Linked DNA regions of Homo sapiens. The protein of the gene in region 2 purifies or fractionates together with the protein of the main gene of each other region. This does not show direct contact. Each region holds a gene or a part of one and is shown on either strand. Other genes may lie near its edges.

Region 1 (3,500 bases), on a different chromosome or scaffold from region 2:
GGCTCATCTCTTAAAAAAAAACTAAATTGACAGGTCTGAGGGTAGCTGGAAATCTCTTTTTTTTGAAAAAGCTCTCAGGTAATTTTTAAACACTGCCAGCACTGGGGATCAAAATCTACTTAATCAGTAACAATAATATCGACAGCCCCTCCCTCCATCTCAGGGCCAGAGATATATGTATGATTTTAGGGTTACTAGAAAGACAGTGCCTCTGCTGCACCCAAAAGTACCAGATTTGGCTGCTAGCTATGACCTAAAATTCTTTATTAAGACTAAACTCTTCATTCCTCAACTGGTATCCAAAAACATTTAAATGCAAACAGAAATAACAGACATATAAGACTCCTACAAATACATTTTGGTAAACTAAGTGTTCAGGGCAGATACTTACTGGGTGTTGATATGGAAGAAAGGGTTAGAAGGCAGAGGAAGCAAAAATGGAATGTGAAAATGCTAAACTCAAAATGCATCCAAATTTTAAACAGTTTCTCTTTGGCACCTTCCAATCACCTTTCTGCATCCTCTCCTCTTACTGTTCTCTTCTCCAAGCTTCCAGGATCCTCATGCTCTTCTTCCAAAGTCCAGGACTATGGTACCCTACCCAGGATTCCTCTAAAATCTAAAGTTGGCAGACTCCAAAAAATACACCTATCTACACCTTAACCTCCAAACTTCACATTTCTTCAGCTCCTACTAAAAGTTCAATAATTAATATCTTCTTCATTCTTATACAAGTTATTTGCATTTTTAAAAGAGGCTATTAAGTCAGTGAATGAATTTCAGAGTGGTGGTTATTTCAGTCAGTGAAAGAAAGTAAACTGAAAAAAGAAGAAAATCCTAGGAATACATGTAAGAAAATCCTAGGAATTTGGGGCAGATAGGCAGACTAATCACTCATGCCCTAGAGATCCATCTATGTCAGTTTTCTTAGGTTGTTCCTGCTTTTCTGTCTTCTCTTCTGCTACTATCAACCCAGAGGGTCTAGGAAGTATTTTCCAAGGGGCAGCCCATGGATCACCTGCATCAGAACTCTGTGGGATCTTTTTTTTTTACAAATAGTGATCCTTGGGACCCACTCCAGACTTCTACATAGCCGCTAGTAACTCCTAAGCACACTAAAATTTGAGAATTACACTCAAAGCTCCAAGTGTTCTGGGCTTTAGTGTTTGTTTTGTTTTCCCCACAATGGTTCTCATGGCAGTAGCAATGTCTGTGACTGTATGGGCCAATGGTAAATCAAGGATTGTTTACACCCTAAATGTGCTTAAAAAGACATCATTCTTTCAATTTCTAATTCTCTCATACATTGTTGATTCTTGCTAATGTTGCATCTAGATATGTCCAATAAAGGAACCTAATCACACCAAGCAACCATATTACACTGTTTATCTGCATCAGGTCTGCAAAAATAGGTAGATCCTACCACAAAATTTAAAGATTAGATCCACAATCTCCTTAGTTCTTTTTAATTGCTTTCATAGGCTGTAAGAATTTATATTGTTAATACTACATTAATTTAATGCTGTTTTATTTTCAAGACATCAATTTCACATAAACTCTGAATTGAGAAAATGGCAAAGGAAAACCCAAACAATGACTCATGTACACTTACTTGTAAAGATATCGATCCACTGTCTTTAGTTTTACTTAGAAAGCTAGAGATGGATAAATTCAAGTCAATACTGCTAGTATCAGCAGTGGAACCAGTGCCTGAATCATTATCATTTTCCTTTGGATTCTCAGATTCTGGTGGCAGAATAGTTTCAGTTTTTGATAAAGAACCTATTTCTTCTTTATTTTCTCCACTGTCAGAGTTGATATTAATACTGGGTATTAGAACAGGCTGAGGTTCAGTGGGCTGTGAAACTACAGTAACTTCAGGCTCTTTTTTAATTGACACTGGAATTTCTTTTTTCTCTTTATCTATCTGAGTAGTGACTTTAGAAGCATCCTGAACTTCACTTCCTAAAGCCTTTTGGTCAGTATCAGCCACCACACTTCTGACCTCCATTTCTTCAGTGCTACTTGACTCAGTGATTTCTTCACCTTCAGTTGTTCCTGGTTCCTCATTGATGTCCATTATGTTCTCTGAACTGTTTATTGCTTGTTCCTTATTTTTACCTTCTTCTATTTCATTCATTTCAACTATTTCTTTAATAGGAACTTCCTTAGTACCACCAGCCTCAGGACCCACCATGGGCTTATTAATTAATTTCTGGCCTACTTCGACCACTTCTTTCCCATCATTACTCTGCGTATCCTCAGCACTGTCTTCATCCACTTTCTGAGCCACATCTGCTGCCTCACATGTTCCTATCACATCACTTGTATTGCTGATCACATCTTTTTGAGTTTTGTCGTCTTCCCCCAATTTCTCTTGGGTGTCTTCCTTTGTAAGCCCAACTTCACTATCAACTGCCTGAATATTTGCCTCTTTTTCTCCAGTCTCTTGAGAAACTAAATCTACTGTTTGCAAAATAGTATCTTTAATTTCTTCAGATTTTATAAGCTTATTTTCAAACATCTGTTGCTTTTCCTGATCCTTTTCTTCCTCAGATTTTAGATTATGTTCAATATTTGTTTCTAAGGTTATCATTATATTATTCTCTTTTCCTTCACTGACTGAATTAATGTCCACAGTTTCTTGGTCTTCTGTGTCAGGCAGATTTTCAAGCTTGGGCCTCTTCTCTCTTTCATTCTCCTTGATTACTGCTGTTCTGTCATGGAGTTCAGTCATTGCTTCTAACTGAGCATCGGTAATATGTTCATTAATATCCTCCACAGCCTTTTCAGGTTCATCAGTGGTGGGTTTTTCATTAAGAATTTTGCTGTTGAGTTTATCTTCAGAGTTACTACGTTCTGTTTTTTCTGAGACAGACTCCAAAATACAAGCATTTTGTGAAAGTTTATCTTCTTCAGAGCTGGCGATACTAAGGTCAGAAGATGCACGCTTACTTGCAGGTATTGGCTAAAAAAGATTTAATGTATTTTTAGTGTTAAAACATGACCTTAGAGTGACCAAAACAATGTTTACAGACCTACAGTGATTTCAGATCTTTATTCAGTAAATGTTGCTGAATTTAAAGAATTAACAATTCTTCTCACAAGAAATATAACAAAAATGGGCCGGGTGCGGTGGCACACACCTGTAATCCCAGCACTTTGGGAGACCGAGGAGGGAAGATCACTTGAGGTCAGGAGTTCGAGACTAGCCTGGCCAACATGGTGAAACCCCATCTCTACTAAAAATACAAAAATTAGTTGGGTGTGGTGGCGCATGCCTGTAGTCCCAGCTACTCGGGAGGCTGAGGCCCAAGAACCACCTGACACCGGGAGGCAGAGGTTGTAGTGACCACTGCACTCCAACCTGGGTGACAGAGTGAGACTCCATCTCAAAAAAAAGGGAAATATAACAAAAATGTGCAGCGACGAGCAACCTTGCTACTAATCTTCAGGTCTAAATTTAAAGGTTTTGCGTTGCCACCCATCAATCCTTAGAT
Region 2 (2,630 bases):
TTGGAAAATTCCCACTGAGTCTGTGAGCCTCTGTTCTGGTAACCTCGACCAGCCTGTCACCAGTATCTCTGGTCCACCAGTGCGGTGTAACTCAAGGGAGCAGCATCTCTCCAGATTGCTGAAGTGAGGGAGGGAGATTATGAGGGAACTGCCCCAAGGACACAAGGATTCATTCTTAGAGTTCCCACATCTTGATTAAAATAAACAGTACAGGAAATAGACTGCAGGCACATCCAGGTGATTAAAAAATTTAACACCAGGCAAAAAAAAAAAAAAAAAAAAAAAAAAAAGCCAGAGGGGAGCTAGGATGCAAACTCTATTATTGGGCCTCAATAAACACTGAAATAGATTCCCTTGTAACCCCACCCTCTAATCTTGGACAATATGGTATCCAATACTGAATGAAAACTTCAGAGATGGTAGGAGGAGGAGGAGCAGGTGGTCAATGACTACAGTAAAAACCACTGGGAGTGCAGAGTATTTGTCAAAGAACTTCAGCATTACAATGAACTTTAAAGATCAGATTTATTTGGAGAAAACAAAAAACCCACAACCCAAAGGATGGGATTTTACATCAAGACATCTCCCAGGTAATAAGTCTACAGATTACAAATCATTTTCATAGAAGATATTTTTGTACAAATTTTACATGTATTCAGGAGCGGGACATTAATCAATCCCTGTTTCTATTTTAATAGGGGGGACAAGGTAGGGGAGAGGGAAAAACAGTTTTGGATATAACTATTTGGAAGGAGAGTAGACATGAAGAGGGCAAACCCTAGCTTTTCATTATCTACAATCAATAGTTTGTTTTTCTTTTTTAAAAAAGAAAGAAAAACCCTTTCAATCTTCAATACTCTTTAAAAGCCCACTTCTTAGCTACTGGCCAATCCACACCAATTATTTAAATTCACTTGGTACACACCTTTGTCCACTGGGTAAATTATATTCATTATGCCCACTGCTGCAGCACGCATAAACCAACACCCCTGCATGGCTGAACAGGGCCTAATCTAGGACTGATGGGAGAAGGGCTTGCAAACCAAGATCAAGGTGTTTCTCCGCTAATACTGTCTACCAAGCTGATCCCTACAAAAATGCATATAAAAGCAGGCAAGTTTAGCTACTGTGTTGCAAGAGAAACCAGGACCTTGTTAAATAGTTCTCTCCATTACCATTTATTCTCTCAAGGGAAGCTTAAAAAAACAACAACAAAACAACACATTGGTCTGGCCACCTCATGAATCCAACAAGCATTAGTGTGGCATTTCAGTGGAGAAGGAAACTTGGGGGGAAAAATCCCATCAAGGTTGTAAGAAAGGCTCCCAATTTAACTGTCCCTGTCCCTATTTATCCATCATCCAAGACCATCCATTATTCTAGAGCACTCTGATCAATAAAAGGGGTCCAAGCATCAGGAGCAGGCAAGGAGAACCAAAAGACATCAAGAAACCGATTTGCTTGAGAAAAGCAGCGATTCTTCCTTTCAGAGTTCTCCATGGCTGAGAAAATGCCCAAGACATCATGTATGTGACTTAGATACTGCTTTTTGGGAGGTTAAGAGTAGCATGAAGAACTTAAGATGATGATAAGAGTCTAAATTTTTAGTTTCAAGGTTTCAATAGAATGTGGATATATTCAAAACTTTCAAAAAGGACAGTGTTTAGAAAGGGTAAAACTAGGACACAGAAAACACTGGGAATTACCACGACCCCCAAGTGCTTCCGGCTCCAGGAAATAACCATTCATGTGTTTGCTGGAGGTCACACAATTTTCCCCTATTACCTGGTGCAAAATGACTCATCACTTCCCAAAAGCTTCTTTTCAAACCACGATTTTCCCATTTATTTTGGTCCAATGCAGTCCCATTCTTTATGGCCTATAGTCTCACTCCCAACTACCCCCCTGGGGGGTTAAAAAAAAAAAAGGAATTCCCTCTAGGCTGGCCCCCAAAACTCAGAATTAAATAAGAGGAGGGGCTGGCAGCCTCCTGGAGACTAGAACAACTTGAGGCTAAATCTACCTTTCCAAGAGTGGAAAATTTATTCAGATAATGTTTGAGAATTCATATATGCCACAATAGGATAAAAACTAAAAGGTAGAAATCTCACACTTTTCCTTCTACCTCCCTCCCCTACTGCCCAACCAGGTTCCAGGCATTATATCACTGTCATTACCATTTCTGCTAAATGGAGACCCCTAGGCACTAATCACACTGGCAACTGCATGGTGACATAACGCACCACAACTTTTCCTCTAAAAAGCTGTAGTCCCTTTCTCTCTGGCTGTATTGGCAATTCTCCAGTTACTTCAATACTTTAAAGGCTGCAGCAGCATGCAAAATAATTTCATTTTTTGTTTTTAAAAAAAGGTAAGAAAGGTCTTCAGGAGATGGTGAGTTTTATTTTGTCTTGTCTGGATAGAGGTTTTGATTTGCTCTCGAATGTTCCAGGGTGGAGAGAAACTAGGAGAAAAGCACAGGATGTAGAGGTCTATTCGGCATAATCTTCTCCCTCATTTTCATCTTCACCATCAACAGAGAGAGCAGCATACTTGCTTGCAGAACTGAACTTCTGTAACACAACGAGAGTGACAGGATAATGAAGGCCCTGAATTATCACATCAAAACC
Region 3 (2,185 bases), on a different chromosome or scaffold from region 2:
CCCAGACCTAAGTCAGTCAGCATATGGCTTTCCTTTAGTTCTAGCTAAAGGAACGAGAATGGACACTTGATCGAATTGAGGCCATAAGAGATGAGGGAAGATGCAAGGAGCTTCTGGAAAAGGTTAGAGCTACAGGAAACAGATGGGCCTTGCCTCCTCTGGACAGTGTGTGACTCTGAGGACTGGTGACCCTGACATCAGAGGAGGATAGGGCTGAGAACTGGAGAGAAATGGAACTGAAACAGACCCGGTGTGCCGGAGTCAGCAGCCCCAAAGCCCTCCCCATTTCAGGATTCACTTAAGATTCCCAGTATCTTCTGAGTTTTCTGGGTTTTGCACCCTATGTAATTACACCTGCTTAAAATCCCCTTTCTTCCCCAGCCAAGGTCCTTCACTGATGTGGGCTCCTGCCAAATCTTGTCAGCCTCCAACTTACATCTGATCCCCAGCTGCTCTGAGTTTTCATTCTCTGCATACATCATGTTCCCAGGTGCCTCTATGCCTTTCCATGCGGCTGCTCTTTATGCCTGGTTAGCCCTTCCCTCCTTCATATAGCCAACTGCTGCGCATCTTTCAAGACTCCTCTTAAGCATCATGCCTCCTGACACCCTCCTGGACCCTCTCCTCCTTGATGGGCCTGTAACCTGCCTCCTCTGCTAGACTCTAAGCTCCTTGAGCGTGGGGACCACATATTGTTCATCTTTAGACCTCAGGGTCTAGCAGGTTCCTAGCACAGAGTGAATGCCCAGTGCCTGCTGGAAGGAAGGGTGGATCTTTTTAACCAGAGTGTGAGCCCCAGTTACAGGCAGTGCCTTGGTCTCATTGAAGGTTCTCATCCTGAAAGAGGCAGTACACTAGGAGGGGCCCAGAAATACTTGCGAATTTAAGCTTGCTTAAATTGGCTTTCTAACACAGGATAAGACTTTTGACCAAAAGACTGGCTTATTTAAAAGAGCGGAATTTCAGTCAGAGTACCCGGTGGGAGTACAGGCGAAAGGGTGGCTCTTTCAGGGTGGGAGTGCTTCTAGCCACTCCTCCACAATATGTGGGTCACTGCCCCCTCTGCTCACATGCCTGGATAGCAGCTGTCCCCTGGCCCCCCTGCTGTCCCCCTTACTTGATACTCAATCAGGTAGTTGTGCTCCATGAGGGTCAGCTGGCTCTTGAACATCTTCATTTTCGTCATCTCACGGGCAAAGTCCTTCTTGTCCTTTTTCCACATGGCATCCTTCAAGAACCTGGTGCCAAGGTCAGGGCGGGGGTGTCATCCCACAGTGACAGAGCTTCCACCTGGGCTGGGAAGACTGGCTGCTGCTGAGGGCTTGGATGGGGATGAGGGGAGTGGCCAGAGGGAGAGGAGCAAGATGAGCCATCCCCATTGCCCGGGGCCCTCTGGCTCCCTACTTCCTTTAGGTGAAAGACGAAAGTCCTTGATGACCTGGTCACCACCCTCCTGCTGAGGAGCCAGGGGCCCCAGGGCAGGAAAGGAGGGCAGTGATCAACCCAGAGAGCAGGGGACCTGGGCAGACTTACCCCCAAGCCCAGGTGATGAGGTGATTGCCTCATCCAAAATATCCTGGGCAGTAGGCGCATCCTCCAGCTGTCTGGCTTCCCAACCCTCCCCTTAAAGGCTCAGCTGTGGTGAGGGCCCTAGGGAAAAGGCTGGGGGAGGGGAAGGGGGTGGGCAGGCTCCAGGTGGTTCTCACACTCTCACCGGGCACAGGCACGGTGGTTCCATATTTTGCAGAAGTCAATGGGTTTGTAGCCCATGGCATCTTGGGCATGGACGTTGGCGCCACTCTGCACCAGGACCTTCACACAGTCCAGCAAGCCGTCACGGGCTGCCAGGTGCAGGGGCGTGGAGCCGTTGCATGTCTGACTGTGGAAGGCCCCACCAGTGGGGATAAGGGCAGAAAGGAAAGACAAAGAGCATCTGTCCATCAGATAGATGGACACACCAGTTTCCAAGCCCTGCTCTACCATCAGTCCACTGGGTGATCCTAGCTATGTCTGTCCCTTTTGGCACCTCAATTTCCTTTACTGTAAAGGGAGGAATTGGACTAAGTGAACAGTAAAAATCTGACTTTAGAAGGTATGTGATAGTTAAGAACTGCTGGAAGGAGAGCTGGCTTGGTTCAGAGACCACTAACCTCATCCACTCTTAAACCAACCAGCCCCCTGCCCT
Region 4 (3,500 bases), on a different chromosome or scaffold from region 2:
GTGCGTCGCGGTACCCCCCGAAGAGCAGGGCCTGGGCTTTGAGGAAGAGACGGGACACCCCTTCCCCGGGGGCCAGGGCGACCTTCCTGAGCCGGAGCCTCAGCAGGGACACCTGAAGCACAAGGGAGTGGCCCTGAGTGGGCAGGTGTGGGCCCCTCGCCTCCCGGGGCAGGAAGGTGGGAGGGGCGACACTGACCACGTCTGGAGGCAGCGCCTGCACGTCGTTAAAGGTCGTCTCCAAGGTATTGGCGTCCACGTTCAGCACCACGACGTCCTCCAGGGCTTTTTCTCGTACTCTCTGCGGAAAAGCGGGGTCGGCCGCTCAGAGCCCGGGAGTCCTTGGCAGAGGAGGGCATCTGGGGATGTAGAGGAAGGGGGAACCCTCACGTCCCCGTCGTCTGGGTAGATCCACGCTCACCTCGGCGAGACTGGCGTGCACTCCAATGAGGTAGGGCATGGGCGCGCTGCGGACCGAGGGGACGGGGTCATGCAGGCACCGCCCCCAGGGCCTGCCCACAGGCCCTGCCCCTCCCAGCTGCCCTCGCTCACCAGCAGTAGTCCAGCAGGTGTGGGGGCAGCGTGGGGATCAGCACGTGCTCCCAGCGCATGGGGTACAGGAGCGCGCAGGACGCGTGGACGCACGAGGTCAGCTGGGGAGCGATGGCGGGGCGTGGAGTCAGGGCCTGGACCCTCTAGCGCGAGGTCTCTTCCAGCTGCATTTCCCACGTCCCCAGTCTCCTGTTCCCCCTCCCCATCCACTGCTGGATAATGAGTGACAACTCGAACCCCTTTAGAAATCATGTGGAGACCAGGAATTTGGCCACTTACAGTGCTTTAAGCGGGTGAAGCCAGGACTCATACCGTCCTGATCCCTCTCTGTAAGGGGCGCAGTTAATAGGCAACACCCCTGAGTCTTCCCCATGCAGGTAGAGCAAGGACTGAGCCTCCACTGACTCCACCCCGAAAGAGGTGGAGCTATGACGTAGACCGCCCTTGTCCCGCCCCTAGGGGTGGATCCAAGACGTAACCCCACCCAAAGAGGTGGAGCCGGAAGGCAATCATTTGGCCCCGCCCCTAGGGGTGGAGCCAGTCTCCACGTCTGCCTTTGACCCTGGGTTTCAGGGTCCCTGGGAGTATGGGTCTCTAGTTTTTTGCGCCCCTTGTTATCTGAGTCCCTGTGTTCCTAGGTCCCTGGGTATTCGGGTCCCTGGGTCCTCAGATCTCTGAGTCCCTGAGTCCCTGGGTCCCTGGGTCCCTGGATTCCCACGTGTATAAGTCCCTAGTTCTCAGTGTCCCTGAGGGTCCGGAGGGGTGGAGCCAGACGTGTTGCGGCCCATAGTGGGTGGAGCCTGAGCACAGTACTCCCAAAAAGGAGGAGCTGCAGCGCAGCCCCCTCCCACGAGGGCGGGGCCAGAGTTCAACTCTCCAAGACCTTCGAAGGGGCGGGGCCAGGACTTCGCCCTCGGGTCTCGCGCAGTAGGGTTAGAGCCAGGAATCAGCCCCCTTGTCCCGCCCCCCGGGGCGGAGCCAGGCCCTGCTCCCACCCCGGCCCGGCGGACCCCGCCTCACGGTGCTGAGTTTGCTGGCGGTGAGCAGGACTCTTCTCTCGGCCAGGAGCGCCGCGAACAGCCCCACGATGTTCTCGTCAGTCACGGCCACCACCAGCTCCGTTAGGTTCCTCTGAGGATCAGAGAGTCGCTCTGGGCGTGGACGGGCCCCTGGATCTTGCATCCCCGGTCCGGGTTTCGGGACCTGTTCTCACCCCCAGAGACCCCTCCCCACTCACGTTCTCAGGGATGGATGGCAGGCGGCCGGAGTCCGGGGCCACGAAGCAGGAAAGCTGGTGGGGGTATTGGCAGGGGGATCAATCAGTCAGGAGGCTGGCCTCACCTGGACCCCCGACCTTCCAGGGTCCCCGAGCCCCGCTCACCGGCTTGCTATTCCCCCGGGTAGGGGGGGGGATACCCTGCCCGCTGGAGACCGTCACTCCGCTGCCCTGGGGAAGAGGCACGACTCTGTGGTCATGATGGCTGGGACGCAGCCTTCCCATCCACCTAAGGTCCAGCGCCCAGGGAATGGGAGCTACTCACCAGCTCAAGCCCCACTGAGGCCTGGGGCCCAGACAGGGACTGCTGAAACAGATTTTGAAGAAGTTCCTCTGCCTCGGTGACCTGGGTGGGACGTGGAGGGGCGGGGGTGGCTGAGCCAGATGTGGGGATTGGGGATTCCGAGGGCTATGACTAAGGTTGAGTGGTCTGGGAGGAGCCAAGGGCTCAGGTCAGTCCTGGGAGTTTTTTTTTTTCTTTCTTTAAAAGAAATTAATAATAATAATAATAATAATAATAGAGACAAAGTCTCCCTATGTTGCCCAGGCTGGTCTTGAACTCCTGGGCTCAAGGGATCCTGCTGCTTCGGCCTCCCAAAGGGCTACAATTACAGGCGTGAGCCACCGCGCCCGGCTTTTTAAATTTTTTAATTTAAATTTTTCCTTGTAGGCCGGGCGCGGTGGCTCGCGCCTGTAATCCCAACCCTTTGGGAGGCTGAGGCATGCGGATCACCTGAGGCCAGGAGTCCGTGTCCAGCCTGGCCAACATAGTGAAAACACGTCTCTGTTAAAAGTACAAAAAAAAAAAAAAAAATTAGCCGGGCTGGTGGGCCGCGCCTATAGTCCCAGCTACTTGGGAGACTGAGGCGGAAGAATCGCCTGAACCCGGAATGCGGAGGTTGCAGTGAGGCGGAATCGCACCACCGCACTCCAGCCTGGGCGACAGAGGAAGACTCCATCTAAAAGAAATTTTTTTTCTTGAGACAGGGTCTTGCTCTGTCCCCCAGGCTGGAGTGCAGTGCTGCGATCATAGCTCACTATAGCTTCGAACTCCTGGGCTCAGTTGATCCTCCCACCTTGCTCTCCTGAGTAGCTGGGACCACAGGTGTGCACCACCACGCCTGGCTAATTTTTTATTTTTATTTTTTGAGACGGAGTTTCGCTCCTGTTGCCCAAGCTGGAGTGCAATGGCGCGATCTCGGCTCACTGCCACTTCCGCCTCCCGGGTTCAAGCGATTCTCCTGCCGCAGCCTCTGAGCAGCTGGGATTACAGGCGTGTGCCACGACGGCCGGCTAATTTTTTTTTTTTTTTTTTGTATTTTTAGTAGAGACGGGGCTTCACCATGTCGGTCAGGCCGGTCTCGAACTCCTGACCTCAGGTGATCCGCTCGCCTTGTCCTCCCAAAGTGCTGGGATTACAGGCGTGAGCCACAGCACTTGGCCAATTATTTTTTATATTTTGTAGAGACGGGGGTCTCACTATGTTGCCCAGCTGGTCTCGAACTCCAGGGCTCAAGGGATCCTCCCACCTCGGCCTCCCAAAATGCAGGGACTACAGGTGTGACACAGTGTGCCCTGCCAAGCCTGGGAGATCTGAGAGGGAGGGGTTGGGAGGTTGAGGGGGGTGGGGGCTGGGACTCCCACAGGAGTGAGAGAGGGGCTGGTCTCACTTGGT
Region 5 (2,773 bases), on a different chromosome or scaffold from region 2:
GATATTAGGGATGCTGTAGACCCAAGTTCTACATTCCAGATGTCCGTGCCTATAGTATACTGGATTTATTCTTCATGTTGCTTAAATGCAGTTAGCTCTGGAGGGGGATAGCTGCATCCCTTACTTCTGTGACTAGCAAAGGACAAAGTCCCAGCGCACAGAATATGAAAACATACCCTGTGTTAGCCAATCAAGTTACAGCAATGCTGTCACAAAGGGAGTTTTAGAAAACTGGGGAGTCATTGTCCGTAGACAGCCATTTTGATTTAGGAAACAGGTGTATTAGCATGAGCCTTAGGTCATGAACTGCTTTTAAAGATTGAGTTTGAATATGGGATCTGTCCACGAGGAAGAGAAAATGGCTTTACCTTTAGGACAATCTCATTGTGGACTGCTTTATTTATATTATTAGTAACGCTGTTTTAAGTGTTATTCTTTTTATTGTATTTTATTTATAAAAAATGCCTTTATATATTGAAATATATAAATATATATATATAAACACACACACACACACACACACACACATATATATATATATATATAATTGCCTTTATATTTAGGCGGTATGAGTTCTCCCTAAGCGTGAGTTGGCTCTGCCCTGCACAGGCACCCAAACAGTCCTACCTAATGTCACTTCACCAGGAAATGAGAGGACATGGTACAGTGTGGGAGACAGCACTAACACGTGCTGAATAACTACTGTGTACCAGGCACTGTGCTCGGTGCTTGTTACTGTTAACTCATTTAACCCCCACAACTCATCTACAAAGTTGGCATTAAAATCCCCAAGTCACTCAGTGAGCCATGGGACCTGAATCCGAACCTAGTTTATCTGGAGCCATAATCTGGGCTCCTCCCATTTTTCCATACTGCTTTCCAAAAGCATTGTGGTTCACTCTTTGGATGGAACCAGTCCCGTTCCGTATGCTGTGATCTATCCCTGCCGTGGAATTCCTCCGAGGCTCCAACTCCGCAGCCAGAGAAGCTGCTCTCTGGCCTCCGCGGGCAGAGCTCTGCTTATGACTTCGTCTTCCAGAGGTCCACATTTCTCCCCTTGACGCCCCCTGTCTACCACCTCCACCTGGAAATTTGATCTTTACTGTGCTCAGTGATCACGAAATTGGTCAAGCCTATTCATGTTCCTTCTCATCTAGAATTCTGTGTGATTGTTTTAGCATAAACTGCCCCGCTCCCACTGTATCATTTCACGATCTCCTTTTAATGTTTTTCTTTCAGTTTTGCACTGACAGTCTGGTGACAGGTGCTGCCAGGGTGCAAGTTACATTGCAATGTTCTAAACCTTTTGAAGTGTTCTTAGCAAAAGCCTTTCTTTCTGGGTGTTTTTGTCGAATGAGTCTATGAAGACTCAATGCATCCATCTTGGGCTGATCATGCCACAGATCTCATTCCAGCTATAGTACTGCCAAGAAGTGAAGTTTATCATTGAATTTTACCTGTGTTGCTCTCTTTTAAAGTAATGACTTTGAGATGCATGCTTTGTATCATATTGAAAAGTATGTTTTATTTTCCTTAAAGTTGTAATATTGTGTGTGAAACTGTACATATTTTAAATGATGTAGCTTTGGCAGGTTTTATTTGGTTGATATGATTTTATATTAAAAGAGAAGGCTGCTTTCATATAGCATAGCCCCTGAAGGTGGGAATACTCCCTGTTTGTACAACGCTGCTTATAGTTTGTGATTGGGGTGGGCGAATGTCTTCCTCTGAAATTCTTTGGAACCCCCCACCCCTGTCCTCCCCTGAAACTCCCCTGTGCACACCCCTCTGTTCTGACTGCAGAGATCAAGGCCCTGAAGGAGCAGGATCTTGGGCAAGTGTTTTAGGGGACGCTGAGAACATACCTGACCCTGGGGGCGATGTGGAGGCAGGCCCACCTCCTCGGGGCAACTTTGCGTTTCCTTGGAGGGAAGGGAGGTGGGTAGGAGAGGAGCTTGGGAGGATGAGGAGGAGCGGTCCCGCCTCACACATTGTCTATTTTTACCATTAACCGAGCGCCACATGTTTATGAACTTCAGGATAGAAATTTAGCCTCCTTGTGAAAACGTTTTGTTTTACTGCCCTAAGAAAATACACATCTCTAGGCTTGTCTGACCAGAAAGCCAGCAAAGTCTTTTGCATCGGGTGTGGCCCTTTTGTATTTTATTTCCCATATTTAAATAAGCCTTCCTTAAACCCTAGCCCCAGTCCTGAGAGCTTTGAGGGTAGCCGAAACCCCTTATCTAATAAAGTCTAACTCTGTGAGAACCACAGAATCTTCTTAAGCTTCTCAATTTTCTGTCTCCTTTCAGGCGCCACGTCCCTTGTGCTGGCGGGTCCCCCGTTGGCTTTCTTGCCGTTTCTTCTCATCTGTGTCTCCTGCAGAGGCGGCTCGGAGTCCCGAGTCTTCTAGTCAGTTGAACAAGCATTCATTTGTGTTTTCACCCAGATTACAGACACACACACAAACAGACACACACACTTGGAGCTAGTGAGTCATGCTGGCAGCTGACATTGTGACTCTGGAACAGCCCCGGTGCTCTGTGGGCCAGCTCCCCCAGCCTGGGGGCGGGAAGCTACATCTGCAGTACCTCTGCTCCGTATCTTGTGGGCTGCGACTCCTGGAGTCGGACCACTGCAGCGTCAGTGATGTTCGTAAGCTATGGTTGAGCAAAGGAACACACACCTACACACCTTGCTTCTTCCCACTAGCCAAACCTGGGACCCAGCCATCAGCCTGTCTCTGTGGGAGTCGCAATGGAAGTAGCCCTCT
Region 6 (3,788 bases), on a different chromosome or scaffold from region 2:
GCCTGAGTGGGAATTCAGGGCCTGAATTCTAAACTCAGCATGGCCACCCACTCGGCTGTGTGCCTCAGTTTCATCTTAAGTCAAACCAGGATCAGATACTGCAGTTGGGGTGATTTTATTAGTCAGAGACTAATTTTATCAGCCAGGGCCTTTTCTCTCTCATGCACGTACCTTCTCGGGGAAATCAGGTTGGAGATGAAGATCATCAAGGGCTCCAGTGGCACCCCAAAGCTCAGCTACACAGGGCGTGATGACCGGCACTTTGTACCCATGGGCCTCTACATCGTCAGGACAGTGAATGGTGGGTGAGGAGGGACTGTTCCCGCCATCCCCTCCCCTCTCCCCTCTCCTCGCCAGGTGATGGGTCCAGACCCTACCTGAGCCAGAGCGAAGGGCTCCCAGCTAAGGTGGGTAGCAGCCAGGCTGGCATTTCTCTGAGGCATATGTTAGGGGACAGTGTTCCCTGAGCCTCTTCTGTTCTTCCGTGGGCCCTGGGAGTTGGTTAGGCAATAGGGAGAGGAGCTCAACTTGTACACACGCACGTGTTGTTCTCATGGCAGGAAAAGGGCCTTCTCAGTAGACAGCAGCAAATCCAGAAAGTCAAGCTTGGTTTCTGTCCATTTGCATCCCCCTTTCTTCAGAGCGCTCTGGCTAACAGAGTCCTACATCTGTCAGAGTCCTAGAGATGTTACCCTGATGGAGGGTTGGCAGGACTGGGGTGGGGTCGTTGAGAAGAAGTCATCGCGTAGTCATTCTCCTGCAGCCCCTTTGGGCTGGTGATGAAGGCTGCTGCCTCACGGGCTATTCCCTGCTTGCTTTTGGTGGGAGGCAGGAATAGGACCACCGGGAGTGGAGGAAGGTACACGCCTGTCCTCCACAAGTGCTTTGTGTCCCTTCTGGGCTTCATCCCCTCTTCCTCCCATCAGAGCCCTGGACTATGGGATTCAGCAAAAGCTTCAAGAAGAAGTTCTTCTACAACAAGAAAACCAAGGACTCTACTTTTGACCTCCCTGCAGACTCCATTGCCCCATTTCAGTAAGTAGCTCTCCTCCAAGCCTGCCCTCCTTAGCAGCCTCAAGTACTCCTGCAGGATGCCAGCCAGCTGTCTTGGGGGCACACCCTGGGTCCTGAGACTGTTGCCCATGCAGGGGTTCCCCTGAGCACAGGCCTGAGAATACTTGTGGGGATGGCAGCCCCCTGCAGGTGTGGCTGGACCTGGGTAGAGCTGGTGAGGGAAGCACGATGCCTGGACCTGCTAATGGTTACGGGCCTGGCTGTGAAGGCCCATCTGGGCAGCGTATCCACCCCATGGAGCAGCCACGTTTCGGTGACATTCCAACACTGGCCTGATGGTGGGAACCTGCTGAGGGCCCACAGCCCTGCCCCTTGGCACTCAAGGTCCCAGCTGTCCCTCATTAGGACCCGGTGTCCATTAGTCAGACTGTTGGTCATAGGCTTCCCCAGCAGCCCTAATGTGCCTGTAATTAGCCACTGACATTTTCTGTCACCACACTACTAATACTGTATATTAGAGAAGCACAGACAGATAAGTCAGGAATATCAGTCACTGTAGGAATCCAGTTGGATGCAATTAGCAGCAACAGCTGTTTGTTGGGAAAAGTTGGTTCTGGGAGGCAGGGGAGTTAGGGCCTACCGGGTACCTTTTGCCTGCCGGGGGAAGAACCTCAACTAAAGTCATTGACAGACCCCTCCGCCCCACACCCTTAAGAACACATGACCCTGTGCCATCTGGGTGCAGTCCTGACCTCTTTCCCATCCCTCTCCTCCCCAGCATTTGCTACTATGGCCGGCTCTTCTGGGAGTGGGGGGATGGCATTCGTGTGCATGACTCCCAGAAGCCCCAGGACCAGGACAAGCTGTCCAAGGAGGACGTCCTCTCCTTCATCCAGATGCACAGGGCCTAAGAGCCTCAGAATGTGCCACCCCTGCAGAATGCCCTGTCATTCCTGAGATGGGGCCACCTGGGGCCCACAGTGCTGGCTTCTTCCCCCTCTTGAAAAGGGACTGGGGAGCATTGCACCTGGCATGAGGAGTGGGTGGCCTCCTCTCCATCCCCTGAAGAGCTCAGGCAGGGCCCTGCAGAGAACACTCATGTTCCTTCTGGGACACCTGCCTGGGAACTTTCCCCTGCCAGGACTCAGCCTGAAGGAAGCTGCTCCTGAGGCAGGTATGAGGTCAGTGCCTAGGGCACGTGGGACTGATGGAGGACATATCAGAGTGGCAGAGCTGTGGGCTCTGCTGTTCTCTCCTGCATCCTGTAGACTCACTTTTCTGAGTTCCATGCACTGCCCTGAGGGTAGCCATGCCCTTGCTTTGCCCAACTTTTTATTGGGCCATCCCTGAGTGGGTGGAGACCTGCTGTCATGAGCTGGCCAGGAGAACCTGCTATAAAAAAATCAAGGTTTTGTTTCTTTGAACTTACTCTGTTTTGATGCCAAATTGGAGACCATTTTCTTGTCTCCTTCCCCCACTCATCCTGGCCTTCCCTGGAGTTCTTCCTAGCCCAGAGCTCTGACAGTCCAGCAGGGTGGGAAGGAGGGAGTTTGGGCAAACTCTCATCCCTGATACCACATTGAGATCCTGGGAGCCCTCTTTTCGTACTGAGTATGGAGTTGTAGAGCCATCCTAGGTGCCATCCCCTTTTGGTCCAAACATTGGGCAGCGCTAGATGGCAGGAAGCAGCCTTGAAGACCCGTCTTTCCCCCACAGCAGCAGGGGCCCCAGCAGTAACAAAGGGTACCTCCAGGGGTTTGGGTAGCGCTGCCCTCTGGCAGTCATGCACCGCTGTCTGCCATAGCCGCTCTAGGGTCTTGGCAGAATTCTGAGCTTGAAGTGCAGCTCCCTTACTACCCTTTCCCTTCCTTTTTCTTCCCTAATAGGAGGTACAATCTGCTTTTGTTTGTCGTTAAGTGGTCACTCCCATTTCCTTTATCTTGGCCGACAACACAGAGAGGAGGGGGAGCTGGGCAGTAGCTTGGGGTGGGGGTGGGCACCTGTGGTTGTTTTTAATGGGAAATACCTCTCAGAGATGTTCATGCAGGCTCCCTAGGGCCCCATCCCAGTGCCAGGCTGGTTTCCATGGAGATAGGGCACTGAGGCTCCCGTGAGGTTGGAATCGACTTCACCATGGGGGTCCTTCAGCCAGCATCCAGCTCCCCACCCCCAGGCTGGCAGTAGCACTGCTGAGATGCTGTATTTCCACCCAATTCTGGGTATATCAGTGTGTCTTGCAGAATCTTGGATCATTAAAGATAAACATATTTTTAATGCCTGTGTGGCTCTGTGTTGGGGCTGCTGCTGTTTGTCCTCAGTGCTTTGTGATCTGAGACTGGCTTGGATGAAACAGCTTGAGCCAGAGGTGAAGGGGAAGCAGCTCTACTCAAAGCAGAGGAGAGAAAAGAGGGTTTGTTTAATCGGAGCCTGTTCAAGCTCTTGGGCACCTGCAGGGCTCCCAGGGCTGCTGCTTGCTGCTCAAGAGGGGGCTCAAAGAAGAGTTGGGGGAAATTGTGCAGCTCCTGTTACAAGCAGGGACTGCAGAATGAATGAACCCACAGCCCCGGAAGGGCAGAGAGGCACCTTCCCCCCTTACATAAATCACACAGCTCACTCCATGGTGGCACTGTGACAATCCAGGATCAGTCTGTGTGACTAAAATAACAGAGGCGTCAGACCAATTAGTGTCACTAGACTTGGGCGAAAGAGGGAGGGAGAGATAGATGGTTTCACTGACCCTAGCCTGCCTCCCCTCCAAGGAGGGCTGGTTCTGC
Region 7 (2,315 bases), on a different chromosome or scaffold from region 2:
GCTATTACATTCTCTAAGCCTATGCCAGGCTTTTAATTCACCTGACCATAATCCTAACCCAGGGGATAGAATTCCAAGAATATAAATTGGCTCAAAAGTAGTTCCAGTAGAACTTTACTGATTATTAAGGCAACTCTTAACCTCTTGAGGTTGGCCTGATAGAGAGAAACCATGTTCCTCCTTAATGCCACTACGAGAGAGATGGGGTTGGGGTGGGGGGAGAGGAGGAGGCGGCGGCGCGGCGAGAGAGAGAAATACTAGGCAATAAGACCCATAGATTAGAGCTAATGGCACTAATTATGTTCATACCTATCCGCAAGGAAGCAGGCAGGAGCAGACCTAATGAGCAATCTGACTGTGCTCTACATTTGGTCCACTTAAAATGAGAAGAATGTACAAGTTTTAGGGTTTTCTGTGTTGTAAGTTCCCAGAATAAACGTAGTTACAGGGTAGGGCTGCAGGTTAGGGACTGCCTGGAAGATAGGATGAAATGTATTTTGTTCATTTGATTTCTGTTTTTATTTCATCTTGAGCATGTGAAAAATCAGTGGCTTTTTAAACTTTCAAAGTTGACTGCCTAGACTGATAAGTTTAAGAACACACAAGTAAATGTCAACAGTCTCTTGTGTTGCTGACACACTCAAACCAGTGCTAAAACAATTTTTGTCTTAACTCTGAATTATACATGTTCAGACCTGCTATTGAAACAAATGCATTTTGATATTTGGATTTTTCTAAACTAAACACACAGCTGTGCTAGGCTCTTTGCTCTGTTAGCCTTCTGACCATTTTATAGCTCTAAGCATGTGATATTTTCTCCTAGAAGACTCCGAAGTGCTAGAATATTTTCAGAGGGCAAAGCCTTATAATAATTCTTACTGGAAGCAAACTAAACAAAAACCAAGTTCCAGAAAACATTGCTTCTGAGAAATTCTCAAATATCATCAAGAAGAATAAGTGGTTAACTTAAAAACAAAACTATGGCAATATGTTAAAGTACAATACTGCAGTAAGGGTAGAAAACACATCTAAGGTTTCACCCTTAGTGTTAAGCTTTTTAAAAGCAAAAAGGTCATGTGTATCAATTTGCAGTGTACTAAAATTGTGTTCAAAGTTTATTTCAAGTCACAGAAAATATACAAACTAAGACAATAAAATGAAGTGATTTTGTTCTGAGAGAAGGTGATGGGAGTCCTCCACCTGGCACTGATTTGAGTCATTCAAGGGTTAGGATGCAGGTCATCTTTTTTCAATATTTCAACAAAATTATAGAATTTCCAGATTTCTTGCCAGGTATTTTTGAAAACCTGTAAGAAGAAGTTAGGACAAAGCCATTAGAAGTGAAGACAAAGCTCTCTTCCGGAAAAACTTCAGGAAAAAAAATAAAAAGGCTAGGGGAGGGAGGACAGGCATATAATCAAATCACCAGGACAGATTTGCAAAGTATCTGTCTCCTGCCTCCTGACTCCTCAAAGCAATCAGCCCTTGCAGCAGGGTTTCTCAACCTCAGCACTACTGACATTTTGGGCTGGAGTACTAGTTGCTATTGGGAAGTGGGTGAGGGGGACCATCCTGTGCATTATGGGATGTTTAGCAGTATCTCTGGCCTCTACCCACTGAATGCCAGTAGCATGCCATACTCCCTAAAGTTGTGATGACCAAAAACGTCTCAAGACAATGTCACCTAGGGGGCAAAACTGCCCTTGTTTGAGAACCATTCATCTCTAATGACAACAGTATAGAAGCCTGTCCATGATGGCAGAGATGGATCACAACTAGCTAGGTATAGGATGGAGGAAAACCCAACACTTTAGCCATGGTATGCACAAACACCAGTAGACACACAATAAAATCTTGCCCACATAAAATTGCATAGAACCACACATACATATACACAAATCATGATAGTTTTTTTAAAATGGTGAAAACTGAGTTTGCAGTCAAGTTAACAGTAATGTGCCAATGTCAATTTCTTGGTTTTGCACTACACTGGGTGAAGGGTACATGAGACTCCTTGTACTATTTTTCCAACTTTCCTTGAGTCTATGATTATTTAAAAATAAAAGGTAAAAAAATAGACAAAAACTTTGCCTTGTGGTTAATATGCAAGGCCTTAAATTAAACATCCTATAAGCAAAACTATAATGAAAGAAATTTCAGAAACATTTCTACCTCTACTATCCAGAAACAGTAAGGAGTAATTTTCTCACATTGTAGGGAATGCCTTCTCTGGCTTAAGTAAATTAGTAAAAGAAATAATTTTTATTTATTCCTCTGAATGTAATAGGTAGTCTATACTTTTACTAAAAAAAAAG

The links.
Region 1: the proteins of EIF4B (region 2) and SLK fractionate together in Homo sapiens (co-fractionation; one large-scale study listed by BioGRID). This does not show direct contact.
Region 3: the proteins of EIF4B (region 2) and ANKRD53 purify together in Homo sapiens (affinity purification with mass spectrometry, with the first as the bait; one large-scale study listed by BioGRID). This does not show direct contact.
Region 4: the proteins of EIF4B (region 2) and DENND1C purify together in Homo sapiens (affinity purification with mass spectrometry, with the first as the bait; one large-scale study listed by BioGRID). This does not show direct contact.
Region 5: the proteins of EIF4B (region 2) and CDON purify together in Homo sapiens (affinity purification with mass spectrometry, with the first as the bait; one large-scale study listed by BioGRID). This does not show direct contact.
Region 6: the proteins of EIF4B (region 2) and CMTR1 fractionate together in Homo sapiens (co-fractionation; one large-scale study listed by BioGRID). This does not show direct contact.
Region 7: the proteins of EIF4B (region 2) and CSTF2 fractionate together in Homo sapiens (co-fractionation; 2 studies listed by BioGRID). This does not show direct contact.

The regions. Positions count from the first base shown.
Region 1 is NC_000010.11:104,001,640-104,005,139, reverse strand, and holds part of SLK (STE20-like serine/threonine-protein kinase), read right to left. Parts: intron 2,969-3,500; coding exon 1,613-2,968; intron 1-1,612. UniProt on the Homo sapiens protein: Mediates apoptosis and actin stress fiber dissolution.
Region 2 is NC_000012.12:53,040,086-53,042,715, reverse strand, and holds the end of EIF4B (eukaryotic translation initiation factor 4B), read right to left. Parts: intron 2,574-2,630; coding exon 2,493-2,573; 3' UTR 501-2,492; downstream 1-500. UniProt on the Homo sapiens protein: Required for the binding of mRNA to ribosomes. Functions in close association with EIF4-F and EIF4-A. Binds near the 5'-terminal cap of mRNA in presence of EIF-4F and ATP.
Region 3 is NC_000002.12:70,981,630-70,983,814, reverse strand, and holds part of ANKRD53 (ankyrin repeat domain-containing protein 53), read right to left. Parts: intron 1,880-2,185; coding exon 1,715-1,879; intron 1,239-1,714; coding exon 1,118-1,238; intron 123-1,117; exon of another isoform or gene 1-122. UniProt on the Homo sapiens protein: Required for normal progression through mitosis. Involved in chromosome alignment and cytokinesis via regulation of microtubules polymerization.
Region 4 is NC_000019.10:6,475,288-6,478,787, forward strand, and holds part of DENND1C (DENN domain-containing protein 1C), read right to left. Parts: coding exon 3,496-3,500; intron 2,172-3,495; coding exon 2,091-2,171; intron 1,997-2,090; coding exon 1,931-1,996; intron 1,841-1,930; coding exon 1,787-1,840; intron 1,681-1,786; coding exon 1,570-1,680; intron 952-1,569; exon of another isoform or gene 829-951; intron 651-828; coding exon 550-650; intron 465-549; coding exon 419-464; intron 299-418; coding exon 197-298; intron 113-196; coding exon 1-112.
Region 5 is NC_000011.10:125,956,321-125,959,093, reverse strand, and holds the end of CDON (cell adhesion molecule-related/down-regulated by oncogenes isoform 2 precursor), read left to right. Parts: 3' UTR 1-2,273; downstream 2,274-2,773. UniProt on the Homo sapiens protein: Component of a cell-surface receptor complex that mediates cell-cell interactions between muscle precursor cells. Promotes differentiation of myogenic cells.
Region 6 is NC_000006.12:37,478,221-37,482,008, forward strand, and holds the end of CMTR1 (cap-specific mRNA (nucleoside-2'-O-)-methyltransferase 1), read left to right. Parts: intron 1-188; coding exon 189-301; intron 302-926; coding exon 927-1,035; intron 1,036-1,792; coding exon 1,793-1,925; 3' UTR 1,926-3,288; downstream 3,289-3,788. UniProt on the Homo sapiens protein: S-adenosyl-L-methionine-dependent methyltransferase that mediates mRNA cap1 2'-O-ribose methylation to the 5'-cap structure of mRNAs.
Region 7 is NC_000023.11:100,839,706-100,842,020, reverse strand, and holds the end of CSTF2 (cleavage stimulation factor subunit 2), read right to left. Parts: intron 1,308-2,315; 3' UTR 501-1,307; downstream 1-500. UniProt on the Homo sapiens protein: One of the multiple factors required for polyadenylation and 3'-end cleavage of mammalian pre-mRNAs. This subunit is directly involved in the binding to pre-mRNAs.